3 separate regions of the Homo sapiens genome follow, and regions 1 and 2 are each linked to region 3. The links come from fine-mapping of genetic effects on gene expression. A gene starts in region 3. Each other region holds a variant in brackets. All regions are shown on one strand. Distances are between the middles of the regions.

What was found. PIP is the estimated chance that this variant, and not a neighbour inherited with it, causes the effect. A credible set is the group of variants that fine-mapping cannot tell apart.
Region 1: its variant is the best candidate, but not a certain one, in a credible set for the expression of MAP7 in whole blood (TOPMed, PIP 0.53).
Region 2: its variant is the best candidate, but not a certain one, in a credible set for the expression of MAP7 in esophagus muscle (GTEx, PIP 0.82).

What each region holds. Positions count from the first base shown.
Region 1 is chr6:136,525,556-136,534,828 of GRCh38, forward strand. All of the region lies in intron 1 of MAP7 (microtubule associated protein 7), which reads right to left. Among named protein-coding and RNA genes, the nearest start is that of MAP7, 20 kb to the right of the region's middle. RefSeq lists an enhancer at 211-1,021. The variant T/C (reference allele first, on the strand shown) is at 4,489.
Region 2 is chr6:136,447,676-136,458,745 of GRCh38, forward strand. All of the region lies in intron 1 of MAP7 (microtubule associated protein 7), which reads right to left. Among named protein-coding and RNA genes, the nearest start is that of MAP7, 97 kb to the right of the region's middle. The variant A/G (reference allele first, on the strand shown) is at 5,352.
Region 3 is chr6:136,544,996-136,556,065 of GRCh38, forward strand. MAP7 (microtubule associated protein 7) reads right to left here and starts at 5,427. Exons shown (of 18, transcript NM_003980.6): 1 at 5,347-5,427. The coding sequence starts at 5,413. It overlaps MAP7-AS1 (MAP7 antisense RNA 1), which reads right to left and starts at 7,510. Exons shown (of 1, transcript NR_186370.1): 1 at 5,728-7,510. It also overlaps the pseudogene RN7SKP299. RefSeq lists enhancers at 4,263-4,801, 5,340-5,877 and silencers at 5,099-5,148, 5,159-5,338, 5,379-5,728.

The sequences.
Region 1 (9,273 bases), 20 kb before region 3:
TGAGCATGGGAAAAATTAAACATCTCTAGGCCAAGAAAGTAGCTTAAGTCAAAAAAGGCAACTGATCTGAAATACACCGAATCTACAAAAACTGTTTCCCATTTCATGCATACACAACCCTACAGAGGGTATAAACACTACCAGCAAACCGTGCTAGGAGGTCACAAGCACTCCCTGGAGCATGCACGAGCAGCACAGTTTATAAAACGTTCTATAGGCAGTGTGGGAGACAAGGGCTGGATCTGGCTCCGACCAAAGGGTGGAGCTAATGCATACCTTTTGGTCTTCTGGAATTTCCATTCTTTTGCTGTTCGTCTTCCTCATTAATGGTGAATAAACCAAGAGGAATTGGCCTTGCATTGGTCTTCTTCAGTCTCTCATGTCGGAGAGCTGTAGCTGATCCAGGCATACCGCTGCTACTTGTTTTTTTTTTTTTTAATTGTGATTATATTAAAAATATATGCTTATGTAATTGCAGCTCCCAGGAAGCTGCTAGTTCCTAAGCTGCCTGTTCATTTGAGCACTTGTAATAGATCCCCTATGGGTAAACAGTTTGCAAACAGCTGACAGATAGTACCAGCCACTTGGCAACTGAGGCCCTGCAGTTCCCCTCACCTAGCAGCAGCTTCCCCACCTCCCCTACCAGCCCCCTCCCACTGACTCCCCGACAGGCACATGCGCTGGTGATTGCTCCGGCTCATGCATGCACGTACACGCGCGCGCACACACACACACACACACACACTCCTTCCAGAAAAGCCCTACTACAGACACGCAGGGTCTGATGCCTCCCACCACTGCACAACCTGTTCAATCAGATCCCAGCTTCTTCCTGCTGCAGCACCTTTTTCCAATCTTCTTCCTGCTACCACACAGTAAAATATTCAGCCCACAGCAGAGAGGGGAAAATATGATATGCTGCCGTTAACAGTTGCCCTGACAACCCTAACATATCCTAATCAAGAAGGGCCCAGAGCGGCTCCATCTCCCCAGCTGAGAAGCGGCAGCTTGCAGGATGCTGGGTTCTGGGAACTCACCAGCAGAGGGTTACAGCGTGAGGCCGCTGGGCAGCTCCCTCTTCCTCTCAGCGGCAGCGCAGCAGGATGGGAGGAGAAAGAGTTTTGCTTGCACAAGCAGCAGTAGACTCCTCAGTATGGAGACAGAAGCCTGAGGAAGAAAGGCTTTTTCTTCTTTTCTGGGCCAGGTTGTCTATCATAACAATGTTTGCAAGCCCCTGGATGAATGAAGGCATGGCTGGTACCCACAGAGCAGCTCACTTTACTTTCCTGACATTCTTACCACCCCAGAGCATGTATAAGAACAGGGTTGGCAGCACCAGTCATGAGGGCCACCAGTGCCATGTCCCTGAAACCCTCTGGTGAAGACAGGCAAGGGAAGAACTATGCTGGCTCCCACCAGAGATCACAACGTGGAGTGTCTCCTCTGCAACTCAAGTTTCAAGGACAGAACCTATACTGGGGAATTCTCCAAAGGAGAAAAACCTGTCTCTATTACACCCAGCACACCCCCCACCCTCAATCCCTACCGCTCTGGGCAGTTGCTACCAGCGGTGCTGAGCAATGCTCAACACTTGACCCAATTTTAGCTCTTTTTTGGATCGTTTTCTTCAAAGCACAGAATCATGTGACTATTGTTTTCTCCTGAAATAAGCTATCTCACTTTAAGACTCTCCACTTCTAGACTGCTTAAAATGTGTGCTGTCTCCAAAAAAAATTTACAATAAATGACATTAAAACATGCCAACTGCCAAATTAAGAAAAAACATTTTTTTTGCTTTTGTGTTTTAATAAAAATCAAGTCTGCTTAGCAAGTCAAAAGCAATCCTCCCACTCCCCAACTACTCCCTTACTTTTTCTCAGTACTTAAACCTACTTACCCAAAAGAGGGCCCAAGGGAGTCTAAGGCAAGTACAATATCCTCTCTAAATCTCTTGCGTGGAACAGTAACTTTGGACAATTCACTTAACTCTCTCAGTGCCTCCGTTTTCTCTGTAAAATTGGGGTGATGACTATCATTTACCTATGGTATTAGGGTGAGGATTAAATGCGTGTAGTGCTAGCAACTTGAAGTGCTTAATAAATACCAACTATTATTATACTTTATAATAGTTTGCTGTAACTAGTCCATTTTTTGCTTTGTAATTATTTTCAAGGTATTTCCAGTTCAACTATCAATGCTACCAGGAAGTACTTCTTTGTATCTACTCTTATTGTCCAGCATGGTGCTGGGGGATGTACTAAATTGTGAGCAAACACATGCTGAAAAAAATAAATGAATCTTAAGAACTCTTTCCCTCCACAGGCTGCTTGATTTAATTAAGTTCACATGTATTTAGATCTCTGGCATGAAGAAACGCAGGAAATTTCAGTTTTAGAGTTTATTTTAAATTGTGTCAATCTGTGCAGTGGGTCTTTGGAATAAAATAGAATGGAGTTTTGGAGCTGAATGGGCCTGAGAAAGCAAGTGAGTCAGCATCGTTTTACATGCGAGGAAGCTGAATCTCACGAAGTGAAATTCCTTGCCTAGGTCAAATGTTAGTTGGCAGCAAGTCTACAATTAAAATTTAGACCATCTTCCTCCTAGTCCAGTGCTTCTCCCGATGACAAATGTTTGACCCAGATGTTTTAGAATCCTAGATCGATCTCCAATTTATGTGGAGATGGAAGGAAAGGGAGGACGCATATAAGATCTTATTGTTTAAGAAATAAAAAAATGGATACAAATTGTAAACGTAACATACTTCCATAATTTTCTATATTTGTAAACTTTTATTCTTGAATGAGACATGATTTGTTATTTCCTATTATTTTTCTTTAATCAGATGATCAATAAACACAGGTGTAATATACATCAATATCATACTATTTGTGAAATGAAAATATTTTCAAATCCACATTAGCTTCTTTCCTCTACTTCAAGAGAGTCAGGTCAGTATTTACAATAGCAAAAGCATAACAAAACAAAAAAGCAAAATAATAACAAAAAAAACCCCACATACAAAATAAGCATACTTGAAACTACCTTTTGGTAAAGAAAATGAAAATCTGTATTAAGCAAATGACTAATTTCATTTAGAAATGTTTGTCACCCAAATACAGCTTACAGCTTCCAAACAAAGCTAGCTGCTGCTCTAATAACTAACACATTATCTCCACTGAGTCAAGATGCTCTCATCCTGCTGTCGTGTAAATCCTGACCCCAACATCAACTAGCTGTGTCACTGTCACAGAAAAGCAAACAGCACAAGATCAAATAATAACAATAAAGGATTTTTTTCCTTCCCTTATAAAGGACACATTTTTCACTTAAGACATAAATTCATTTGAGATTAGTTTCTTAAATGTTCACACCCAATCTTTAATGGATATAGGGGTTAGCTCCTGGGGAATTCCAGGAATACTGTGGCTTGATCCCTGTAGAGGTGTGGGTACCATCTTCTCGCAATTCCCTTTTACATTTTGATCCAAACCAAAGGCAAATACGGAAAGGGATATGGTGAGACCTTAAATTTAAATATCCGCCAAAGTAAAATAAACACTACTCTGAATTCCTGAACTCTTTGAGATGGAGTCTCGCTGTCGCCAGGCTGGAGTGCAGTCGCAGTCTTGGCTCACTGCAACCTCCACCTCGCGGGTTCAAGTGATTCTCCTGCCTCAGCCTCCTGAGTAACTGGGATTACAGGCATCTGCCACCACACCCAGCTAATTTTTTTTTTGCATTTTTAGTAGAGATGGGGTTTCACTATGTTGGCCAGGCTGGTCTTTGACTCCTGACCTCAAGTGATCCACCCACCTTGGCTTCTCAAAGTGCTGGGATTAAAGGTTATAAGCCACCGCGCCCAGCCTCCTGAACTCTTCTCCAGCACTAAGGAGCATTTTCAATTAGATGTGGCACAACTATCCTTGCATGTCACATGCAGATACAGAGGCTTAAATCAGTCCCCATGGGAAATGGGCATGCAGCCCTCCAACAATCAGTAAGGTTTTGCAATTACTTTCTTTAAATTGTTAAAGTGATAAATGTTGTATTAATAGAGGCTTTGTACAAATTTGAGAGAAATGAGGCACTGCCTAGTGCAAAATGGTAGATTTTACAACTAGATTGGCTTTATATTGCGTAAAAATATTCTGCAGTATAATTTCAAAATGTATTCACATTTATGGGTAAAAACATTACCACTCAGCTACTATGATTAAAACAGTCCAATAGGCCCCCGAGCAACTGCAGGCCCCACCCGCTTGGTCCACAATAAATTTATGTCTCTTTGTCCTCCTACCCTGGCTGGTTGGCATCTCTGGCCTATGTCCAACCTGTGAGTTGGATGAATATGAAACAGAGTCAAACTTGCTGATCTTTGGGGAAGTAAGCTCATGACTTGGGCCTAGCTGTCACAATGCTATATAAAAGACTAACATGTAGTCACCTGCATACACATACGCACACATAGAGTCAGCTTTCTGTTCACAT[T/C]TATGCTTCCTAGACTTGTGTGACCATAAAGTTGGAAAACAGCACACTCCATGAATGAATCCAAGAAATCTGCTTAACCAGTGAGAAACATACCTAAAATTTCCCTTTCTAAAAGCCCAGTGAGCTTTACAAAAACATTATTGAAAGAAAAAAGAGCCTAATTTGTACTATTCAATGGCTGTAGCTGAAAACAGAAATTATTACTGCTGGATTGAATGGCCTGTCACCAGTAAATTACAAGTTCCACGTATGTATAAGTTATTTACTTTTCATCAGGGTCCAGAAGTGCCAAAATTCTTTTCCACGTTTCAACATTCGAAGAGATGGTTAATTCTTCAAAACTACCGGACTTCAGCAATCTTTTAAGTATTTAATGCATCTCCCCAAGATAAACTGAAATTTACTTCTAGCAGGAGTTTTAACAATATTTTTATGCAACTTAAAAACTTTGCATGATTTTGAAAATGACAAAGCCAGCACAGGTTGACATGGAATCAAACAACCACTAAGGAACAAAGGGTCCCAGCTGGTTCTTTGCCACTCTATTCTTGAAGTTAAAGGGCAGCCTCAGAGTTTCCTAGAATTATGCCACTTACTGATGGCTTTTGTGACGATAAAGGCACAACATTCTGCCATCTTGCAGCATCATGCATAGCATAGAAGAGGCTGGATAAAGAAATACTGCACAAAGAAATATCATCCCTTTGAAAGGAAGAGGCAGATTTGCTTTGATCTTCTTTATTTGACCACTTTTTGTTAACAGGCATATAAGAAAAACAGTAAATACTGCCCTAGTAGCGGTGATGCCATCAGCCAGAAGTACCAGGTCCCTGTGGTGCCTTTTACAACATTTCTATAAATCTTCACTGCAAAACACTTCATGGTGCCTACAGAGTCCATTTTCCCATGTCTGCTCTATCATAAACAAATTTCAAACGCTAGGGATTCATTTATACAAATGTAAGGTGTGGATACTAAGCTTTAAAACCCTTTCCTAAATGTTAGGTGTGAAATGCCACATTAAACCTTAACCCAGTAGCACATAATGGAATGCCTCTCAGCCCTCTTGTTCATTACTCTCATTGATAATACTTTATTAATGTGCACTACATGAACTTCTGAATTACTTGATAAAAGTTAAATGTGCAAAGACTGTCCTCTCTTCTCACGATAATTAGGCTAAGAAATCCAATTTTATAGATTCCAAATGAGGGAAAGAAATCAATCGCTGGGTTCAACAGAAGATTCATACAGATGCCCGGACTGTGTTTCTGTAAGTTACCTAATTCACTGAGGGTCTGTGAGCAGTTTAATTTAGTGTTTAATTTAGTTTTATTGTTGAGCCACACCATTAGAAAGAAAATGAAACTATGGTTCCTTGACTTGCTTTGCTTTAGGAGTAGTAAAATCATGTTAAAGATGACAGATGGGGTGCTTTGGGGCATGCCATCAGAGAGGATACAGAGCCAAAGGCATAATGTTTTCACCAAACAGAGGCAGTGGGGAGCCACTGAAGGGTATTGATAGCTAAATGTGTGATCCAGACAGGCCAGGATGAACTTGAAGTGAGAAAGAGAGAGACGGGACAGAGACTAGCTATGTAACTACTTCGTCCAAGTAAAGAAAAGGGATCAAATGGTGGTCATAGGGATAGACGTAAAAACAGGAATATGAGAATCAATCATGTTTGTGTTTTTTTAACAGACACCCCTCTAGCAGTGTGAAAAACTTATCCATAGGCTTGAACGTGAATACCAAGCTCCTGCAATAGTCCAGATGAAAGATGGAGAAGTGGGCAATGCAAAGAAAGGTAGTTATGTTTTTATTAAAGATTAATATGAGAACAAGTGCTCTATATCCATAGAAAAAAGAAAGCTAAGAGATGGATAGACTCAGGTCCAAAATGATCTCAAAGAATGAAATAATGAGCTATACTTAGACAGGATACAGCCTATTCAGTTTATTCCCACTGAATAGGCTATATTCTTATCCATTCAGTAAGAATAAACAGGAACATATCTTTTTATATGTAAAAAAAGTTCAACTGGACAGGTACAAAATGAAGACCTACCCAAGCTGCCCCAGAAACAAAGCGAGCACTTGGACAACAAGCTCACTAAACATCATCAGCGCACTGAGGAAGTAAAAACCCTAAGTGTCACAGTGGAATCGGCAGACACCAGCGTGCCTAATAGGAGGACAAGCGTTCTCTGTTTACTGGTCCTCATACTACATGGTACTCGCAAGATATTTGAAATAGGATGATAAATGAGAACACTTTCAGAAGAGAGTGACCTAGGACTTACCATAAATATTCTAGGCCATAACATAGGAGACATAACATAGAAGAAAATAAGACAAGACTCCAGAGGAATAAAATAACAGAATTAAAGGTTAACATATGGAAGAATTTACACTTTTAGTGGAAGTGTAAATTTAGTTCTGGAAGAGAAAACTGGGACCAGGGACTGTTAAGTTATCAGAATGTAAAAAGTTATGTTTCTTGACATTGAAGATAGCTGTGCACAAACACTGATTTGGAATGATGATGTTGGATTAATGCACTGTTTACAGGTTGAATTTTTTTTTTTTTTAATCTCTAGAGCTTCTTCTGATCCTGAGATTCCATGACTTGATGCAAATGGAAAGTCGAGTTATATAACCAAGAGAGAACACTCAGGCAGAGGGAAAAAGCAAGGCTGAGATAAAGCCCTCTCCTTTGCTGTACCTGTGCACATACTTACTCGCATGGCTTCATTTTGTAAGCAACTCTGCGTTTCATTATTTTACTTATTCAACTGATGGTCCCGAGGTTTTAGCCTTAAATGCTAAATCACAGAAACAACTGAACCTTCTCCAGGTGTTTGGGTTAGAAGAGGGCCACACTACTCTGATCTCCGCACCTGCGGCTTCCAGACTTCCCACATTCTCTCACCCACAATGTAATGAAAACCTACTGATATACATGCCTGTAATCCCAGCACTTTGGGAGGCCAAGGCGGGTGGATCACCTGAGGTCGGGAGTTCGGGACCAGCCTGACCAACATGGAGAAACCCCATCTCTACTAAAAATACAAAATTAGCCGGGCATGGTGGCGCATGCCTGTAATCTCAGCTACTCGGGAGGCTGAGGCAGGAGAATCGCTTGAACCCAGGAGGCAGAGGTTGCAGTCAGCCGAGATTGGGCCATTGCACTCCAGCCTGGGCAACAAGAGTGAAACGCCATCTAAAACAACAACAAAAAACCTACTGATAAAGATGAATAAGAGAGTTTTCCCCTCAATGAGCCAATTTGTTATAGGTGGATCCCTATAGCTATGTGACTTGAGAGATGAAATCTAAATGAAGAGCGATACTAAAGAACAGCAAACCAATTCAGTGTATGACTTTTTGGGCATTTTAAGGATAGTGACAGCATTAAGTCTTTAGGACAGCAAAGCATCGGACAGGTGAAGAACATTCATTTCAGAATGTTTTAAGACTTTTCCTCAATCCCATCTGTGTTAGTCCGTTTTGTGTTGCTATAAATACCTGAGACTGGATAATTTACAAAGTTTTGTTTTGGCTTAGAGTTCTGCAGACTGTACAAGGAGCACAGTGCTGGTATTTGCTTCTGTTGAGGGCTCAGGACGTTTACAGAAGGAGAAAGGGAAACAGGTGTGTCACATGGCAATGGAGCAAGAGAGATATCGGGCTCTTTTAAACAACCAGCTCTCACATGAACGAACAGAATGAGAACTCACTCATTACCATAAGAGGAGTACCAAGCCATTCATAAGATCGGCTCCCATGGCCCAGACATATCCCACTAGGTCTGCCTCTAACATTGGATGTCATATTTCAACATGAAACCATATCTAAACCGTATCACCATCCTTTGCTACTTTGCCACTCTTTCCATTTCTTTCTCCTAAACCCCCCTGAAATTAAAAGACATCCATTTTTTTACTGAAAGCGTAATATCCTGTTTTTACCTTCAAAAATCAGGAAAGATTAATTATTAAATTTTATCTCTTAAATAAAGCGATTTGTATGATTCTGGGTAAAAACTGTTAATTTTCTTCTTGAGGGTGAGTGTATCAGTGAGGATTCTTCCACGAAATAGAACCAATAGTATTTTTGGTTGTTTCTCTGGAGAGAAATATATTGTATATAAAGACTTATTTTAAGGAATAATGGCTGCTGCCACTGTGGGGACAAACAAGTGTGAAATCTGTGCAGCAGGCTGGCAGGCTCGAAACTCAAGCAGGATTTCCATGTCACAGTCTTAAGGCAGACTTCCTCCTTCTTCTTCTTTCCCAGGCCTTCACCTGATTGGATTTGGCCCACCCATAGCCAGGATAATCCCCTTTACTTAAAGTCAACTGATTGTAAATGTTAATCATAGTTACAAAATACCTTCCCAGCAACATCTAATGTTTGGGCTGAGCCCAGCTGACACTTAACCTATCAGTCAGTGACCTCAGAGAGATTAAGATACTCCATTCCCACATTCAAGTCAACATGCTGCGAACGAAAGCATGCCATTCAAAAGTCAAAGGCTTATGTATCAATGATCATAATCTTCATTGAATAGGATGGATTCTATTTACTCAGATAATTTTCCAATACTGTAATGCTCTATTAATATAATGTTCCTACAGTTGGGGTCAGGATATCTTAGACTTATTAAATCCCTCTTTATTTTCACTAATGATCACCCTTTGAGAATCAAGTACTGGTGAGCTTAAAAGCATTATCAAATGAACCCTTTTAATGAGAACTAAGCAGCCTGTTCATCTGAAC
Region 2 (11,070 bases), 97 kb before region 3:
TTTTTTCAAAATAATGTCAAGAACCTGGTAAAGTTAAAAGAAACCTCTTGTATCAATATCAACTTATCCTGAAAGTCATCACCTAAAACTTTTCTTAAGCAATGACTTTCACATGACATTGTGCTGCTAAAATACCATAATATTAAAATACTCTCTTTTCCCAAAAAGCAAGCATAATCAAGCAGTTGGAAATAAGAAGCAGTTTGGCCAAACAGCTTCAAAATTTAAAATGAAGGCTGGGCCCAGTGGCTCACGCCTGTAATCCCAGCACTTTGGGAGGCTGAGGCGGGCAGATCACGAGGTCAGGAGTTTGAGACCAGCCTAATCAACATGGTGAAACCCCATCTCTACTAAAAATACAAAAAAATTAGCTGGGCGTGGTGGCACCTGCCTGTAATCCCAGCTATTTAGGAGGCTGAGGCAGGAAAATCACTTGAATCCCAGAGGTGGAGGTTGCAGTGAGCCGAGATCACGCCACTGCACTCCAGCCTGGCCGACACAGCGAGACTCTGTCTCAAAAAATAAAAAAAAAGAACTGAGCTGTTTAAAGACTCTGAAGGAATAAGTCAATTCTGGGAATTAGGCAACAATGCTCTGGTGTCTGTGCGGGAAAAACATTACATATGAACCTAACTTGCAATAAGGTCCTTTTGGCAACACGATTATTAAACAAACAAACAAACAAAAAATCCTTCTATCATGAGTCTTGCCTTTTAAAAGGCTATGGTTAATGACTACGATTTTTTTTTTTTTTTAAGACGGAGTTTTTGCTCTTATCGTCCAGGCTGGAGTGCAGTGGCGCAATCTCAGCTCACTGCAACCTCCACCTCCCGGGTTCAAGTGATTCTCCTGCCTCAGCCTCCCAAGTAGCTGGGACTACAGGCGCCCGCCACCACGCCTGGTTAATTTTTGTATTTTTACTAGAGACAGGGTTTCACCATGTTGGGCAGGATGGTCTCGATCTCCTGATCTCGTGATCTTCCCGCCTTGGCCTTCCAAAGTGCTGGGATTACAGGCGTGGCCACCGTGCCTAGCAATGCCTATGAATTCTTATAAAGGACTCCCATTCTACAAAATGGAATTATAGCAATGCCTGAGAGATACAAGATCCAGAATGAAAAAGAAGAGAAAACAGTAAAGCAATCTTTTCTATCAGTTGCCAAGAAAGGGGAAAAAAACAATTAATATTTTATTATCTTTGAAAAAGCCTCATGCACTGTTAGAATGACTAGAAGAATTCTTCCCCCATCCATCAGCGCATCTGTTCCCCCACTTAAAGCATGCCTACATACAATGTTCCAGGTACTGGGGACACAACAGTGGTGTTAAAAAAAAAAAAAAAAAAGAAGCAAGCCAGGCACAGTGGCTCAAGCCCGTAATCCCAGCACTTTGGGAGGCCGAGGCGGGCGGATCACGAGGTCAGGAGATCGAGACCACGGTGAAACCCCATCTCTACTAAAAATACAAAAATTAGCCGGGCATGGTGGCGGGCGCCTGTAGTCCCAGCTACTGGGGAGGCTGAGGCAGGAGAATGGCGTGAACCCAGGAGGCGGAGCTCGCAGTGAGCAGAGATCGCACCACTACACTCCAGCCTGGGCCACAGAGCAAGACTCCTTCAAACAAACAAACAAACAAACAAACAAAAACGAAAACAAAACAAAAATGTAAGGCAATTTAAATTTAACAGAGTTTAACTGAGCAAAGAACAATTCGAGAATCGTGCAGCTCCCCAAACCAGAATAAGTTCAGAGTGACTCCGTGCTGCCATATGGTTGGAGATTTATGTTAATAAAAAGGAAAGTGATGCACAGAAAATGGGGATGAGGTGCAGAAACAGCCGATTGGTTACAGCCCGGCATTTGCCTTATTTGAACATGATTTGAACAGCTGGCTGCTGTGATTGGCTGATACTCGGTGATTGCTGGGAGATTATGTCTCCCTAATGTCTGTTTACAGATCCAGTTAGGTCACAGTTCACTATGTACCAGGAGACCTTTAGGAAAAACTAAAAATATGTAAGGAGTCAGCTTTAGGCTAAACTTAATTTAAAGGGGGGCAGAAGTATGCAGGGGCTCTGCCCATAGGGACGAAGGCATTAGCCAACGATTGCACTGATGAACTTACATGAGCAACTGGGATAAGGGCTCTGAGAGGGAAGAACACAGTTCTTGAAGGAATACAACAAAGGAACCTGAATAAATGCAACTTTTTAAACTCCATTTGGAGGCCAGGCACGGTGGCGGTGGCTCATGCCTGTAATCCCAGCACTTTGGGAGGCCAAAGCAAGCAGATCACCTGAGGTCAGGAGTTTGAGACCAGCCTAGACCAACATGGCGAAACCTTGTCTCTACTAAAAATGCAAAATTAGCTGAGCATGGAGGTGCATGCCTGTAATCCCAGCTACTCAGAAGGCTGAGGCAGTAGCTTGAACCCGGGAGGCAGAGGCTGCAGTGGGCCAAGACTGTGCCACTGCACGCCAGCCTGGGTGACAAGAGCAAAACTCTGTCTCAAAAATAAAAATAAAAATACCATTTGGCTTCTGTATAAGCCTTTTATCCTTTTCACCAACACAATTCTAAGTAGAAAAAGTAAACTAAAACAAATTAGAATCTAAACATTATTTCCAAGATTTCTTCACTTGTTTTTAAATAGCAATTTCCCACTAACAATATCATAAACATAGATTTTTTTTTAAAATGAATTTTTAAACAAAATTCCCAGCATGGAATATTTCTACCTGATTAAATATTTAAATTTTAATATTAAAATATTAAAATGCAAATAATCTAGTACTTCCAAATAAAATAACTATCTCAAATATTAAATTATCATTTCTTTAAAAGGACTTTTTAAGATATACCACACTTTTTATAGAAGGGCGGGCTGATCACCTGAGGTCGGGAGTTCGAGACCAGCCTGACCAACATGGAGAAACCCCATCTTTATTAAAAATACAAAATTAGCCAGGCATGGTGGCTCACGCCTGTAATCCCAGCTACTCGGAAGGCTGAGGCGGGAGAACTGCCTGAACCCGGGAGGCAGAGGTTGTGGTGAGCTGAGACCACTCCATTGCACTCCAACCTGGGCAACAAGAGCAAAACTCCATCTCAAAAAAAAAAAGAAAGAAAGTGGATACATTTCTGTGAAGAGGAGGCATTAAATACTATAAAAGTCAATGTTCTGTTTTTTGAAGGTTACTGCTGGTGGGGCTCAGGGAATTCCACCTCAAAACATGACTGTAGGAGACAAAAATTTGTACCCCAAATATGCCTTTTTGGCATAAGGATTATTTTGAGAAACAGCAGAAACTGGAAAAGCTCTGAAAACATAAAGCAAGTTACCCTTTTGTAAGAGAAATTTACATCCATAAAGGGAATCTCCATTTGTAAAGGTGTCTCCATCTCTGTACCAGAAAGAAAGGGATGGCTCTAAATCTAAACTAGAAACTCTTATCAATGGGGCAGGCACCTACTTAAATCTGCGCAACAAACCTTACCCTTGTTTAGATATTTCCTGATCACCTCCCCATAACAGGTTTTCTCTACGCCTCCTCTGTTTCTGTAGACATGTATTAAAGCCACCTCCTAGACATTTATAGGCATCTCTTTAATTGCACTTCCCTTTATGGTATTTTGCTAAATCTACTCTGCCTGTGCTCTATAAAAGGAACAAGAAAGCCTGGATGACAGCACATCTGTTGACAGCATGGTTTACTCAATATTTTAAGTCCACTGTTGAGACCTGCTGTTCAGAAGAAAAGATTCTTTTCAAAATATTACTGTTCATTGACAATGCATCAGGTCATCCAAGTGATCTGATGGAGATGGACCAGGAGATGAATGTTGTTTTCACGCCTGCTATCACAACATCCCATCCTGCAGACCATGGATAAAGAAGTAATTCTGACTCTCAAGTCTTATTTAAGAAATAAATTTCTTAAGGCTATAGCTGCCATAGTGATTCCCCTGATGGAGCCGAGCAAAGTAAATTAAAAACCTTCTGGAAAGAATTCTCCATTCTAGATGCCATTAAGAATACTTTTGATGCATGGCAGGAGGTCAAAAATGTCAACATTTACAGGAGTTGAGAAGATGATTCCAAACCTCATGGATGATTGAGGGGATCAAGACTTCAGTGGAGGTTAGTAACTGCAGCTGTTGCAGAAACAGCAAGAGAACTAGAATTAGAAGGAAAATCTGAATACTGAATTGCTGCAATCTCATGATAAAATGTGAATGGGGCCAGGTGCAGTGGCTCACGCCTGTAATCCCAGCACTTTGGGAGGCTGAGGTGGGCAGATCATGAGATCAGGGGTTCAAGACCAGCCTGGCCAACATGGCAAAACACTGTCTCTACAAAAATACAAAAATTAGCCGGGCATGGTGGCACATGCCTGTAATCCCAGCTACTCAGGAGGCTGAGGCAGGAGAATCGCTTGAACCTGGGAGGCAGAGGTTGCAGTGAGCCGAGATCAAGTCACTGAACTCCAGCCTGGGAGACAGAGCAAGACTCCGTCTCAAACAAAACAAAACAAAACAAAACAAAACAAAACAAAACAAAACAAAACTTGAATGGATGAGGAGTTGTTTCTTATGGATGAACAAAGAAAATGGTTTCTTAAGATGGAAGCTACTCCTGGTGAAGATACTATGAATGTTGTTGAAAGGACAAGGGATTTAGAATATTACACAAACTTAGAGAGGAACTGACCCCAATTTTGAAAGTTGTACTGTAGGTAAAAAGCTATCAAACAGCATTGCATGCTGCAGAGAAATGAAAGGAAGAGTCTACTGATGCAATCAACTTCACTGCTGTCTTAATGTTTATGACTCTCTAAAGGCTCAAATGATCATCAGCACTTTTTAGCAATAATTTTTTTTTTAATTTTTTTTTTTGAGACAGAGTCTTGCTCTGTCATCCAGGCTGGAGTGCAGTGGCACGATCTCGGCTCACTGCAACCTCCATCTCCTAGGTTCAAGTGACTGTCGTGCCTCAGCCTCCCGAGTAGCTATGATTACAGGTGCACACCACCATGCTCAGCTAATTTTTGTATTTTTAGTAGAGATAGGGTTTCACCATGTTGGCCAGGCTGGTCTCGAACTGCTGACCTCAAGTGATCTGCCCTCCTCGTCTTTCCAAAGTGCTGGCATTACAGGCATGAGCCACCATGCCCGGCCACTATTTGTAATGAAAATATGTATGTTGTTTTTTCAGACATCATGCACATTTAATAGACTACAGTATAGTGTAAATATAATTTTTATATGCACTGGGAAACCAAAAAATTAGTGTGACTGCCTTGTGAAATTCACTTCATTGCAGTGGTCTGGAACTGAACCCAAAGTATCTAC[A/G]AGGTATGCCTGTACTCTGGAGATTCAGTTGGTATTCCCTAGGCATCTCTCATGAATACGTGAAGTATATATGTTAATAAACTTCTGTTAGTTTTCTTTTGTTAATCTGAAGTTTGCCACAAGTGTTCTTGCCAACTGAGAACTCGGGAAAAGTTATGTTTTCCCCCATGCTAAAACTAACAAGCCACTGGAAATGAATGGAGATAAAAACCTTTCTATTTTTCTCGTGGGTATAATTTCAAAACATTCTGATGGCAGCCATTGGCTGTAAAACCTGTGTACAACATTCAGTGTATTTCAACAAAGCTTAATAATTAATGAACATCCTATGTCATTAATTTATAATAAATCCAATCTGTTTCAGAATTTTCAAATGCACTGCTTAAGATTCTGTCCCAGTGGTAATTAGCTAACAGTGACAGTCTTTAAATTCTTTTATTTGCATTTGTCATAATACGCTTTCCGGACAATCTAGTGAATGTTCAGTGAGTGACTTTAAGGGTTGTGGCAGTGGTCAGGCTATCTGATTACTTTCCCTAACGAGTGAGGAGCTTTTCTCATCATTAGAATACATGTCAGAATAGAGACTTCCTGCATTAGACACAAATAGGTAGAAATTTTTGTAATTATGCTTATTTTTACCATTAGGATTCCCAACAAATTTTGATAATTTAATTTGGTTCTCTTCCTTATGTTGATATGGAGGTACTGGATAAAATATTGATTTAATTTGGTAAATATTACTGTTATAATTTGGTAAAATAACATGAACTTTTATTTAAAAAGCAACTGAGTGCTTGCTTGGACACTGAAGAAATAGCTTCATAGTATTCAGCCAAAGCTGTTTATGACTGATACTTACATCAACAAATACAGACCACTTAATTTTAAATCTAAGTGTTCATCAAGAGAAATTAGTCTTTCTGAGGTGGGCTTTTTTTCCTTTTTTTGCTAGTTTTGCAATTATGCAAGACATCAGTAAAGTTGTTCCTTTTCAATGCCTCATCTCCATATTTACATTTCAACCACTTGGTACCTTGTCTACCGAGGAACATAGAGCTCAGAGGCTCTTCCCAAACTGCCAAATCCTCCAAAAACAGATATTTAATAGGGTTTACTCAGTTCCACAAATGATGAGCCAGCTACCACCCATCAGAATTCATTCATCATTGGACCTATTAAACCCATCAGAATAAAATGCTAATTTGGATTTAAATGCTCATGAAGACTTAACCCTACCTAAATGATCTATCTATCTATCTATCTATCTATCTATCTATCTATCTATCTATCTATCTGAGACAGGGTCTTACGCTGTCTCCCAGGCTGCAGTCCAGTGGTGTGATCACAACTCCCTGTAGCCTTGACCGCCTGGGCTCAAGCGATCCTCCCGCCCCAGCCTTCTAAGTAACTGGGACTACAGGCACGTGACACTATGTCCAGCTAATTTTTGGTAGAGATGGGTCTTACTATGTTACCCAGGCTGGTCTCAAACTCCTGGGCTCAAGCGACCCTCACGCCTTAGCCTCCCAAAGTGCTGGGATTTCAGGCATGAGCCACCGAACCTGGCCTGAAAATGTCTTTTAAATAGCAAACAGCCAGGTGCAGTGGCTCACGCCTGAAATCCCAGCATTTTGGGAGGCTGAGGCGGGAGGACCACTTGAGCCCAGGAGTTCAAGATCAGCCTGGGCAACACGGCAAGACCCCATCTCTTAAAAAAAAGTTAGCCAGGTGAGGTGACCCTCACCTGTACTCACAGCTACTTGGGAGGCTGATATGGGAGGATGGCTTAAGCTCAGGAGTTCGGGACTACAGAGAGCTATGATCATGCCACTGCACACCTGCTTGGGTGATAGGCCAAGACTCTGTCTAAAAAATCAAAATAAAAAACATCTCCAGTTACCTTTCATCCAAAGGACTACTTGAGATGTTAAATTTGGCCAAGAGAAGAGACACTAGGAGACAAAAATTGCCTTAAACTTATGCTACTCCTTAAAGACTATATAGTACATAGTCATGAGTTTAGAACTACCTTCACCTATAGTTGAACTATCCCTTTCTGGATCCTTGGTCAGACAGTCCCTCATCTTTCATCTAGTGTGTACTCTGAAAAGGAATATTAGACATGTGCTTCCAAATGTAGCAATGAAAACTCTAGAAATATGAGTAGTAGACAGGTAAAAACAGCAATATGTGAATATTAAAAGTGTTATAAAGAATATTATATAATGATAAAAGAGTCATTTCACCAGGAAGATAGAATAATTATAAATATATATGCACCCAATATCTGAGCATCTAAATATATAAAGCATACAATGACAGAACTGGAGAGAGCAATAAACACAATACAATAGTAGGAGGAAATCTGAATTCCCCACTTTCAGTAATGGCTAGAACAAACAGACAGAAAATCAATAAGAAATAGGGGACTTGAAAAACACGATAGACCAAATGGACCTAAAAGACATATATAGAATATTTCACCTCAGAGCAGCAGAAGTGCTATGTTCCAGGATATGTCCCAAAACAAGTCTTAATGAATTTAAGAAGACTGAAATGACACCAGGTATTTTTTCTGAGCACCACAGGATTAAAGTAGAAATCAATAGCAGAGAGAATACAAGATAATTCACAAATATGTGGAAATTAAACAATATACTCTTAACCAATGAATGGGTCTTTAACAACCAACAAATGGGTCTGAATATGTTACCCCAAATAATCTTTATTTAATGGATTTTGAGCCAAATGCCACTGAGAATCAGCAGACTCAATATGAAGCTCTAAAATCAAGGCACAAATTTTCTTTTTGTAAAGGAAATTTATATTTAAATAGAAAATTTCCATTTGTAGAGATATCTCCCTCTAACTCAGTAGGGATATGATAACTCCTAACATATCAATGGAGAAGACATCAACTTAAATGTGCATACAAAACCTTACTAAACAACCCCTGTTTATTATACTTTTCCTGGTCAATTTCCCATAACTTGCTTACCCAGCCACAAAGCCCCAAGCCTCCACTCCTTTGTTTTAGTCTAAGACAGTATTTAAGCTCAAATTCTAAACACCCATTTAGGTTACTCATAGCTGTGTGCTCCCAAGTGTACATACATGATGCACATGCTAATAAACTTCTGTTTGTTTTTCTCCTGTTAATCTGTCTTTGGAAAGATTAAGCTGGAAAACCTGAAATGAGTAGAGAAAAAGACTTTTTGCCTTTCCTATAGGGAAATTATAAAATATCTTGAGACATAAGAAAACAAAAATACAACATGCCAAAACTTACGAGATGCAGCAAAAGCAGTGCTATGAGGAAAATTTATAGCTATAAATGCCTACATTAAAAAGAAAGAAAAAGGCCAGGCATGGTTGCTCATGTCTGTAATCCCAGCACTTTAGAAGGCCAAGGTGGGAGAATTGCTTGAGGCCAGTAGTTCAAGACCAGCCTGGGAAACATAGGGAGACCCTGTCTCTACAAATAATAACAAAATTAGGTAGGTGTGGTGGCATGCACCTGTGGTCCCAGCTACTTGGAAGGCTGAGGTGGAAGGATCACCTGATCCCAGGAGATCAAGGCTGCAGTGGTCCATGATTATGCTATAGCATTTCGGCCTGGGCAACAGAGTGATACCCTGTCTCAAAAAGAAGAAAGAAGAAAGAAGAAAGAAGAAGAAAGAAGAGGAGAAGAAAGAAGAGAAGAAGGAAGAGGAGAAGGAGGAGGAGGAGGAGGAGGAGGAAGAAGAAGAAGAAGAAGAAGAAGAAGAAGAAGAAGAAGAAGAAGAAGAAGAAGGAAGAAGAAGAAGAAGAAGAAGAAGAGGAAGAAGAAGAAGAAGAAGAAGAAATACTTCAAATAAAAACAAAACATTATACCACCAAAGAGCAAGAAAAAGAAGAACAGGGTATAAAGCTAGTGCAAGGAAGTAATAATGATCAGAGCAGGAAAAAAAAGGAGAATATAAAAACACTGGGGAAAAAAACTCAATGAAACAAAGTTTTTTTTTTAAAGACAAAATTGACAAACCTTTAGCTAAACTAAAAAAAAACTCAAACAAAAAAAAATCAGAGATGAAACAGGAGATATTATAACTGATGCCACAGAAATAAAAAGGACCATAAAAGGCTACTATGAACAATTAAACAATTATATGCTAACAAGCTGGAAAACCTAAAAGGAGGAGAAAAATTTGTAGAAATACAGAACCTACTAACATTGAATCATGAAGAAATAAAATATCTGAACACACCTTTAAATAGTAAAGAGATTGAATCAGGAATTAAAAAAAAAAAAAATCCCGCCCCCATCCCCTGCCCCAAAAAAGCTCAGGACCAGATGGCTTCACTGGTGAATTCCACCAAACATTTAAAGAATTAATGCCAATCCTTCTCAAACTCTTCCATGAAATTGAAGAAGAGGGAACACTCTTGAACTCAAATTACGAAGCGGTGTTACCGTTACCCCATAGCCTAAGACACTACAAGACAAGCAAACTATAGGCCAATAACCCTGATGAAGACAGATGCAAAAATACTCAACAAAATACTAGCTATCTGAATTCAACAGTATATTAAGGGAACAAATGAGATTTATCCCTGGGATGTAAGAATGGTTCAACATACACAAATTAATAGATGTGACACACCATAGTAACAGAATGAAGGATTAAAAAAAACACATGACCATCTCAACAGCTACAGAAAAAGAAATTGACAAAATTTGATATCCTTTCATGACAAAAGCTCTCAATGAACTAGGAATAGAAGAAAATTTCCTCAAGATAATAAAGGCCATATATGAAACCTCACAGCTGACATCATCTCAGTAGTGAAAAACTATACCTTTAAGATAAGGAACAAGGCAAGGATGCCCACTCTCACCACTTCTATTCAACACAGAGCTAGAAGTCCTTACCAGAGCAATTAGGCAAGAAAAAGAAATAAGCACTGAAAAGGAAGAAGTAAAATGTGTTTGTAGATGACATGATCTTATTTGTAAAAAAAACTTTTAAGAATCCACAGAAAAACTGTTAGGACTAATAAAGGAATTCAGTGAAGTTAAAGGATACCAAATCAACATACAAAAACCAGTTGCATTTCTACATACTATCAACAAACTATCCAAAAGGGAAACTAAGAAAACAATCCTATCTACAATAGCATCAAAAATTACTTAGGAATAAACTTAGCAAGGTGATGAAAGACTTGTATACTGAAAAATCATAAAACGTTGATTAAAGAAATTTTAAAAGATACAAATAAATGGAAAGATATCCTATGGTTATGGATGGGAAAACTTAATATTGTCAACATGTCCACACTACCCAAAGCAATCTACAGATTCAATTCAATCCATATCAAAATCTCAATGGCATTTTTTACAGAAATAGGAAAAACAGTCCTATAATTCATATGGAACCCCAAAGACTCTGAATAGTCAAATGATCAGGAGAAGGAACAAAATTGTAGGCATCACACTTTTCTATTTCAAAGTAGATTACAAAGCTATAGTAATCCCAACAGTATGGTAATGGAATAAAGACATATAGACAAATGGAACAGAATAGGGAGCCCAGAAATAAGCCCACAAATATATGGTCAACTGATCTTTAACAAGAATGCCAAAAATACACAATGGGGAAAGGACAGTCTCTTTAACAAATAATGCTGGAAAAACTAGATATCCGCATGCTTAAGGAAGAAATTAGACCTATACACA
Region 3 (11,070 bases):
AACTCAAACTTGGAAAAGTCTCATATGTCACCTTTTTACCTGCAATCCTTTGACACATGCCCCTGCAGAACCTTAAATTAATCGTCTCTTCCTATTGCCATGCTAATGACTGCCTGGATTTCTGCAGGAATCTCAAAGTTGGTGTGTATGTCGCTGAACTCTTCTTCAGTCCATCCTCAAGTCCACGTTGCTACTTTGAAATGAGGACCAGCTGAGTAGACCTAGCCCTTCATTGATCTCCAGAGATTTGGCTAATCTGGCTAGGCAGATATTCCTCATGCATTCTCATCCCTCCAGGTGCACCCTTCCCAAAGCAGTAAAAGAAAAAAAAAAAAAAATCAATGGAAGAGAATGACTTTCCCAGAGGGAGGAACTTTGCTTTCATTAGCTAAAGGCACAGCTGAGCTCTTGTTAGAACTTGCAATCAATATTTCAAGATTCATGGGCACAGAACTACCTGATTATTCCTGCTTTAATCAATATCCTTTATTCTCAAGAATCCTCAACACTTCCCCCACTACCCTACCCCAGAAAAATGTACTAGCCTCTCAGTTTGGCCTTCAGCCCTTCCACAATTTGACTTCGATGAACAATCATTCCTAACTGACCTAGGACTTTCTTTGAGCTTTACACATGTGTCAATATGACCAAAACTTTGCTCTTTTTCACACCTGCATCTTTTTCTCCCTTTCCTCCATCTAATTTTATATCCCACTTACCCATTTTTAAAAGTTTATTTTTTTATTTTTTAAATTAAAACAAATTTAATTTTTTTTTATTTTTGTGGGTAAATAGTAGGTATATATATTTATATGGTACATGAAATGTTTTGATACAGGCATGCAATGTGAAATAATTACATCATGGAGAATGGGGTATCCATCCCCTCAAGCATTTATCCTTTGTGTTACAAACAATCCAATTACACTCTTAGATATTTTTAAAAGTACAATTAAGTTATTGACTATAATCAATCTGCTGTGCTATCAAATAGTATTTGTTACTATTCTTATTCTTTCTAACTTTTTGTTTTTTGAGACATGGTCTCGCTCTGTCACCCAGGCTGGAGTGCAGTGGTGCAATCTTGGCTCACTGCAACCTCAACCTCCTGGGTTCAAGTGATTCTTCTGCCTCAGCCTCCCAAAGAGCTGGAACTATAAGCGTGCGCCACCACACCAGGCTAATTTTTTTATTTTTAGTAGAGATGGGGTTTTACCACGTAACCCAGGCTAGTCTCAAACTCCTGGCCTCATGTGATCTGCCTGCTTCAGCCTCCCAAAGTGGTGAGATTACAGGCGTGAGCTACTGCCTCTGGCCTTTTTTTTTTTCAAACCATTAACCATCCCCACCTCCCTGCCACCTCCCACCCCCTACCCCCACTACTCTTCTCAGCCTCTGGTAACCATGCTTCTACTCTCTCTGTCCATGAGTTCAATTGTTTTGATTTTTAGATCCTACAAATGAGTGAGAAGATGCAATGTTTGTCTTTCTGTGCCTGGCTTATTTCACTTAACATAATGATCTCCAGTTCCACCACTTTTTAAAATTTAACTTCAGTGCTGTATCCAGTATGTTCTTCCTGCTGACCACAGCCGGAAGTGATTCCTCCTTCACTGAACTCCTCATAACCTGCAACTGTTTGTTGGTGAATTTTGTCTTCCTTGCTAAATTCAAGGATCATTTGTTCAACAGCCTTCTAACCACCATAATGCTGAATACACAGAAGGTACACATTTCTTATTCTAAGCCTCAATATTTTCAATTCTTACATCAATACGAGGCCCGAGTTTTTAAAAATAACTCTTCCAAATGATTGTTTCTCATGCATTGGGAGGCAAAGATGTTAGAATTTTTTTAGAGAAAATGCCAGTGTAAATAAACTGTGTAAAAATATTTCACACAAGCCTATCAATATTACATAAATGCATGCTCCTGAGCACAATTGCCTAGTCTAATAATAACGTTTCCTCCTACTTAGCAAGATGTAAAGGTAACAGCCATATAGGATGGGAGAAAAGCTATCTAGCTATGTGAATGAAGCATCTCTTTCAAAGGGGACAAGCTTAATACCAAATTGACGTCTGAGCCCTTATTTAATTGCAGATATTTAATGTGGACCCTTAGAGTTAAGTGACACCTACAAGATCACTTTTTGATTTGGAAAAGTTCATGAAAGGATGGTCACGAAAGAGGCCATGTTCACCACACAGGTTGCTAAAATGGACAAAAAGCCCAATTCCAGATTCTAAGTCATGACCCACTTCCCAAAATATCAACAGAATTGACAGGTTATTGGCATTAACTTATTCCTTCGTGCATGAAAGCTTCATGAATTAATCAAAAGCAGCTTTAAATTTGCTTTTAGTTCAGGAGGTTTTTAAAACAGGCTATCAGACTAGGAAATTAGTGCTGTACACTCGCTTTCCACAGCTCTTGAACATGAACATAAAATTAAATATACAAAGCTTGGGTAGAGGCAGTTTTGTGAATATCACCCATCGTAGGTCGACTACTCAAAAAAGGCTGAAAAAGGACTTGACATCCTCTAGTGGTGATGTCTTAAACTTGTTTCCAAGGCAATTTTTTTTTTCCCAGCTCTTAACTTTGGCTGTTGGCAAGAAAAATATTATATTGGAAGAACTTTTCATCCTCAAGAAAAATAAATGTTTTCGCCACAAAGAATGTGATTTGACTAACTTTGAGAATATATACCCACAGAAATAGGGTTTTTAAATGTTGGGTTTATATAATAGCTTTCAATATGCTTAAGAACGGTCTCATTTCATAGGCCACACGCCACCACTGTCAATTCATCTTTGATACACATATACACACACACACACTCACACATATAATTCTGAACACATTACAGGTATCATTTTTATAATAACCTGATATTCTCATCTAAAGTGCCCTAAAATTAGACCAGTCTTTGTATAGAGACCCAAAAACTAAGAGTTATTTAAGAGTGGACTCTACCTCATAATAATGAGTTCTAAAAAGAAATAAAATTAATCCCTCAAGAAATGTTGCCATTTAAGGTGGCAATTTTCAACTCTTGATGGTAATAGTTTCTCTGTCCACGGCCACCCACCACCACCACCCCCCCCCACCCCCCCAACAATTCCATACAAACTTCTGATTGTTTAAAAAAATGAGACTTGCAGTATTTGGATGTGTATAATGTGAAATATGTTCACCAGAATGAAGTGCTAAATTAAAGTCTCATATTCAGATATAGGTCATGTGTTTTAAATATATGGAATAACTTAAGTTGTTGAAATTCAAACAATCTCACTTGTTCTCTCAAAATAACTACCACCTAGATTCAAAAAAATACATTTACACCTTCCTTCTTTCTTTGGCACCTGCTGACACAAATGCTTCTGAACACTAAAAACATTAATAGTAATCTTGGGGTAGAAAAATAGGAAAGAGATGCGGGGCCAGAATTAAGTTTTCAGTGAAATTATAAAGTATAATTATTCAAGACCATATATAAAAAATGTCCTTTGGAAAATGAAGTTTTTAGGCAAAAGTGTGGAAGAAATGTTTTCTATGAAGGAGATAACAGCCAATTTAACTCCCTTTTTAATAAAAGAAAATATTACACTGACAGGCACATGGTTGATTTGTATATTAATTGTTGGAAGCACGGCCTATTCCTTAACATGCTCAGGCACTGAATATCCTACAGTTTGTAGTCAGTTCACTTATGTCTGAACAAGTTGTTCACGTGCAGATTCTAGAAAGTTTATTTTTGAGCACAAACTAACACTTAGCTCGCTAGAACAATGTTGTTTCACATGCAGTTACTGGGTCAGGGTTAGGAACGAAAATCATGCCGTATATTTACAAATGAGGATGCTCCTCTCCCGGGGCCCTCACTTGGGGGAGCCCCGTCCCAGCGTCTAGCTCATCAAATTCCCGAAAGCAATTACAAAGGCATCTCTTCTCCACCCCAAAACAAAATAATGATCTACCAATCTTGCGAACACATTAAGACAAACTCCCTACAGGAAGGAGCATGACTTAAACAAGTTCAAGATACTTTGTCAGTCTTAACCTCAGGTATCTTGGCTGAAGGGATTAAATCATTAGACTTTACGTACCCAACCTCTTCCTAGCAATAGCAGATACATAATTTGCAAATACTGTTTCAGAGCTCTCTGGACCTTTCACGTTAAAATAAGCATACTTGATGGTGGGGAGACAGTGATTCTTACATTTAGGAAACAAATGCTTCCGATTGTGACCGTATGGAAGTGGAAAACAGCTTGCAATTGGAGAGTCTAAGAATTGAATTTCTTTTTAAAGTAAGAAACTGCCTCACTGCCCCCATCCCCAAGTGTAGGAAGATATAGAAACAGCTTACTGGCCAAGAATAGAAGAGGGAACCAGTGGAGAGGGACGGATTTGCAAGATAGCCTCTGGAGAAAAAAAAATCACGAGGGAGAAAAATCGGCTTCATACTATGGAGAGATGGGCGGGGTTGGGAAGCCTTGCTGCTGGTCTTGGGAAGCCTTGCTGCTGGTCTTGGGGACGTGATCCCCTGTCCCTAAGTGTGCCCCTGGAGGTTGTGGGGGAGGGGTATCCTCAACACAGAGGCCTGACCACCAAATCCCGGGCTGCAGAGCCAACAATCCTCCTTTGGGCTCCTGCACAGACTAAAAACAAAAAACTCTGAGAACTCCGACAAGTCAACGAAAGTCTGATCCCGTCAAGCCCGCACTCGCAAACCCCCACCGTGCTGCACTGGGCCCCGGCCCTCCCGAGCTCGGTCCCCTCGGACGACGGTCGTCGCCACTGCGGGCACCAGATTGGGGGGCGGGCCGCTCACCCCGCGGTCCTGCCCCACACCGACCCCGCTGAGGAGCCCCCGGCACCCGGGGCGACCAGGGAAGGCGGGAGGAGGTGCCCAGAAACTGCTCGTCCTGCCAGTCGCACCTGGCCGACGACTCTCTGGCCACTGGTTTGGTCTGGGGGATACGATTTCCCATTCAACTGAATTAGACCCGAGGCCGCGGCGGGGAGGGCAGCGGCCGGGGTCTCTCCGTTTCCTCCCCCGGCTCGCCTCCACCTGTTGCGGGAAAGTCGCGGTGGAGCGCCCGAGGGCGGCCGCAACCCCGGCCGGGGCCGAGCCGGGCTGGCCGAGCCGCGGCGGCGAAGGGCGGGGGAAGGCGCTCTCGGAGCAGGGTGCGCGGCGCGCAGGGCCGGTTGTTCCGGGCCGCGGCCGCGCGGGCGGGGAGGGGGCTGCCGGCGCCGGGTGATTTCGGTGCCAGCCCGCCGGCCCCGCTCGCCGTCCCCTGCCCGACGGGACCCCCACTATCCCCGCTGTGCGGTCACCTGTTTCGCTTCGCACTGCGCCGTCGCCGCCCCTGTGGCCGTCGCCGCCAGCTCCTAGCTCCGCCATGGTGCTCCGATGACGCGCCCGGAGAGCCGCTCCGCCCTTTCCTCGGCTTGGCTCCCGCCGGCCCCCGCCTCCCAGGCCAGCGGCCCAGACAGGTGAGCGCAGTCCGGGGATGGCGGAGGGCGGGGACAGAGAGCGCGGCAGTCGGCTGCGGCCTGGGCCTGGCGCGCCCCCTCGCGGGCAGGTGCGGCGTGGCAGCCGCTCCGACCGCCGCTGCCGAGTCTCGGCTGGAAGAGCGGCGGGCGGAACCAGTACCTCAGTCCGGAGCTTCCGGTCGCCGCGGCCGACCAGCTGAGGGCTCCCGGAGATATGGAGCGGGGTCAGCGAGGCCTGGTGGCGCCTCCTGGAGTCTGGGACGAGCGGCGGTCCGAGGAGCAGCCCAGGTGGGGCGAGGGTACGGAGACGCTATTTCCCTCCGAACTCTGAAGTAGCCAGGTCAGTGTCGGCTCCGCGAGGGCTGGAGTTCACGGTGACAGCCGGCAGAGCATCTGATGCCACGTGGAGAGGCGAAGTACATGGGTCGGATTCCACGCTGGGAGCCGGCCTGGATCTGCGCTTTAGGAAGCCACTGCGGGCGACCCTATCTTGTCGCCAGGACTTCGCATCTGATGAGCCTCAGGGCACACAAGTTAGAGAGGCTTGTGCCGGCTGATGTGGCTTTTCTTTTTCTTAGTTTCCGTTTAGTAAACGACCTTGTGACTTCTGGCTTGCTCAGGAAGACCAGAAAAAAAGGCAATAGGTAACGAATTTTTCTTTTTTTAAAGAAACAGATTATTGGCCGAGGAAAAACCAATTTCGCTCTAAAGGATAAGCAACAAAATACTGAGGGGGGAAAAAGCCTACACAAATGGAAACATACGGCACAAAATCAAGGAGCGACCAGTTCCGCATGGTTACACTAAAATGCACTGCACTCCCACTCTCTGGCTTGGCTGAAGATAACCAGCAAGCTCTGAACAGTTTAAAAGCCTTCCAAGGACTGCAGCAGCACTGGACACACAAGAGAGTCGAGAACAGTATTGGATTTATTGTTAGGGTTACAATTTTCACGATCTTTGCATGCAAAACTTGCCACTCTGAGCCCAGTGAACTATTTTTATTTGGTTTACTTACTGGCTTTCTGGATGACTAGGTAGAGCTTTAACTAAAGAACACTTCTGCTGTGGTCTGTGATGATGAATTTTCCCGTAGTGTCATTTCTATAATGGAATAGGCAAACTGACCATTTAGAATGTGATATTCCTAAATCACATTCAAATCAGTCTTATCAGAGACTTCTAATCAATAAAAATAAAGCACCAGATGGCTAGAGGTAGTTTTTGACCTCAGCTTGGGCCTCAGCAAAGATTTTTTGTGTTTTTTTTAACTACATTAAAACATCAGAGTTTAAGACACTTTTCTTTGAGCATCAGAAATACTCTCAGCTGAATTTAGAGTTGAACTATCCGGAAGAACCCTGGAGAAGGAGGGTGATTTATTTTCAACTTTCTGATTTACCACCGACTTAAATCAACCAATGAGTTCTTTCTTTGACCAAAAAAAAAAAAAAAAAAAAAAAAAAAAAAAAAAAAATTCAAGACTTGTGATGTTTCTATTTGTTTTGTTTTGTTTAGTTTGGTGTGTGCTTACTCATTGTCCCATTCTTTTGATAACCTGTATTTATCTGCCACAAGTTAAACAAAAATAAATGAAATAAGGAACACACCAAAATCCTGCACTTAGGCCCTGTATAGACAGTGTGTTCCAAACCTAAGGAGGTGTCTGCAACAGGGGAGGCTGCTGAGTGACTCTGCAGAGAACAGATGACATCTGTTAAATGTCAAACACCATCACGTCGTACTTCAAGTTGTACTTTACTTGGAACATGGAAGCCATCTGTCTGGAGCTCCCACATCCATTTCAAATCTTCAGGGTTCCCCATTCCAGGGGAGGAGCTGAACCTCCTGACACCGTCCACTTCCCTCCTGCCTCCTTCAAACATCATCCCTTTTTTCTCCCGAATCCCTAAATGTTTCTGCACCCAAGGGCTCTACCCCAATAAACACAGCTAAGACTCTTTGATTCTTAAAATGTCTTCCTTTAACGTCCCACCCTCCAGAATCTATTGTCGTATGTTTTGTTCACCAAAGGTAATAAAAATAAATGTGGATTTTGGTGCCGTTATTTTTCAAAAAAAGCTATATATTAATAGTTTTTCTTGCTTATGTATACAAATCAAATTACTTATTTTTAAATCCATCATTCCCCTAGAGTTTCTGCAGCACTTGATCCTCTAATCACCTTGCTCTTGGTCTACCATTGGCTTGGTTTTTCTCCTTCCTCTGTAGCAGTCCTTTCGTCTTTGTTGACTCAGATTCTTCCTCCCTTCTAATCCTCCAATATTTTTACCATCCCCTAATTGTAAACCACAGGCTTTTTATCTTTACTGTCTCTCACAGCCCTCATTTACTATTACTTCCATCCCGGATCCTGGTGACTCCCAACTCCAGAATATATACCCTTAACCTCACTCCTGACTTCCACTAATACATTCTGAATGGTCCCTGCACAATTCTATCAAGATACCCTGCTGTTAATTTAATATGTTCCAAACCACATTAATCTTGCAATATACAATCACTTTACACATACCTCTCCCTTGCTCAAAAACCTTTAATAGATTCCCCGTTCCTATATAAGTAAATATTAACTTCACCTCCTCACCATCACCACCACCACCCCCTAATTGGGCCCTGAGCTCTCTACTACCCATTTCCACTTTTCACCTCTGTAACTCATATTTCTAGCCCATGGAGTTGTTCATTCTCCAGAACACCTTCCAAATCCCTGCTTTCTAGTCTTTGTGCTTGAAGCTGCTCTGCCCGAAGTGATGTCCTTCATCCTGACGTATTTAATAATACTTTCCCTTTGAGGCCCAGGTTAAGGTCTACTTCCTCCATGAAGCCTGTTCTTCCTGCCCTGGCTCCCAGCATGCCTGTCCTTTGGACCTGGCCAGGGCTTGCTGGGCTTGATACTTGTCCAGCTGTTAAAATAGACTAGGCATGAGTTATTGCAAATTTGCCTTCTCAATCTGATGCACATTTTTGGTAGTAGGGTCTTTGTCCTCTACTTCTCTACAGGGTGTCCATAAAGTCTAGAACTATCAGTTATTTTATTTGTTCACGAGTTGCAGATGTTCTTGATGACATCATGTGCACTGCCTGCATTCTGAACTTGGTAGGCATGGTATATATCTTTTGTGTTGCTACCGTGCCTCACACACAGTGGGCATTCAAATGGGTTAATAATTCCTCAATGCCAAGCTTTTTTATGTGGTGGCCTAGGGATGAACGAAACCAAGTATCCAATGACAGAAGAAAGAGATCAAAATGCAGTTAAAAGGAAACATTAGATCTACTTCTCCCAGCAAATTCCTGTTTTGTTTCTTTTATAACACTGCCACCACCCCTGCATTAACTGTTCTGTTTCAAACCATCTTTCCAGGCTCAGCTCTGCACCTTCACTCCTCTGGAAAGCTTTCCTTGACCCCTTCTGACAGTAAATGTAACTATAGCACTGACTGCACCACTGTTGTTTCTGCTTTGTCTTGATTCCTTGACAAGAAACTTCAGGGGAAAGAACTGTATCTTGTTGGTGCACCACAATATGTAGTACCCAGTATTTAATAAATACTTTTGAATGAAGGATAAGTGATGGCAATAGCAAGCATATCTCAGTGTTTACTGTATGCTAAGCATTGTGCTGAGCACCTCTCCTGCATTGTCTTTTCCTTTTTGAGACAGAGTCTTGCTCTGTCGCCCAGGCTGGATTGCAATGGCGTGATCTCGGCTCACTGCAACATTCACCTCCTGGGTTCAAGCAATTCTCGTACCTCAGCCGCCCGAGTAGATGGGATTATAGGCGTGCGCCACCACGCCTGGCTAGTTTTTGTAATTTTAGTAGAGACAGGGTTTTGCTGTGTAGGCCAGGCTGATCTTGAACTCCTGGCCTCAAGTGATTCACCCACCTCGGCCTCCCAAAGTGCTGGGATTACAGGCACAAGCCACTGCGCCCAGCCTCCATTTTCTTATTTACATCTTATAGCAGACCTATGTGGAAGGTACATCATTTCCTCCATTTCACAGATGAGGAAGCTGAGACTTGGAGAAACTAATTCAGTTGTTCCAGGTCACAAGTCAAGTTACAGTTTTGCTTCAGGCCTGGGTGTGTAGCCTCCTGCTACGCTAAACAAATGATGAACGTTAACCATCTTGCTATTCCCTCTATAGAAAGGGGCTCTCCATTTCCCTCTCTAGCTGTTACCTGAAATAAGGAGGTGAAGCTTGATCATGTTAAAACACCTGTGAAACTAATTTTTAAAAAGGGTATCTGGGCCCAACCCCAGACCAGTAAAAACAGTTTTCCGGCTGGACACAGTGGCTCATGCCTGTAATCCCAACACTTTGGGAGGTTGAGGCAGGATGATCACTTGAGCCTAAAAGTTCGAGACCAGAGTGAGCTGAACATAGTAAGACCTTGTCTCTACAAAAAATTTAAAAATTAGCCAGACATGGTGGTGCATGCCTGTAGTCCCAGCTACTTGGGATGCTGAGGTGGGAGGACTACTTGAGCCCAGGAGGTCAAGAATGCAGTGAGCTATGACAGTGCCACTGCATTCTAGCCTGGGTGACAGAGACTCTGTCCCAAGAAAAAACAAATAACAACAACAACTCAGTTGTCCCAAGGTGGTGGCATCAATATTTTTGAAAAAGCATCCAAGTCATTTTAATGCGAAGCTGAGTTGAGAATCACTGGCCTAGATTGATCCTAAAAGCGTTTCAAATGCAAACCTTTCCATAATGGAGTCTTCCATAATGGAACTGTCTTCTTTTGTGCCTGAGACCCAAAATTCTCACAAATGGCTAATGATGTTGGCCTGGGAGTGTGTTAGAACCCTGTAGGGACAGAGGATCATCTGCTCACAAAGACAGGGTAAGAGGAAGGTACCAAGGAAAGATTGTATCCTTGAAGATTTGGTTTATGGTGGGTAGCTGGATCCTATATACAGTCAAAAGAAGCACTTCACCATTAGAATTGAGAAGATGAACTGTGGCTTAATAAACGGCTTACTCTGTGTTTCAGTATGAGCCAAATGGCATATCATTGAATTTATACCTCACTTATTTCAGAATATCCACACAGGATACCAGAGGCAACTCTGTCCTCCAAATTAGGATGTTAAAAAAGAGGCCAGAAGCAGTGGTTCACACCTATAAGCCCAGCACTTTGGAAGGCCAAGGCAGGAGGATCACTTGAGGCCAGGAGTTCAAGACCAGCCTAGATAACACAGTGAGATCCCACCTCTACTAAAAATTTAAAAATTAGCTGGTTGTGGTGGTGTGCCTCTGTAGTCCCAGCTACTCTGTAGGCTGACATGACAGGATTGCTTGAGCCTAAGGGGACAAGGCTGCAATGAGCTGTGATCGTACCACTGCATTCCAGTCTAGGCAACAGAGTGAGAACCTGTCTCGATCAATCAATCAGAAAACATTAGTGAGAATGTTTTCAAAATAAAGATGTCTTCTGCTTTGTCAAAGACTGTTGTTTATGAGTGAAATCATGATATACAAACAGCTCTATGTTATTTTTATCCTGCCTAATAAACAGGTTCCTCTGTATTT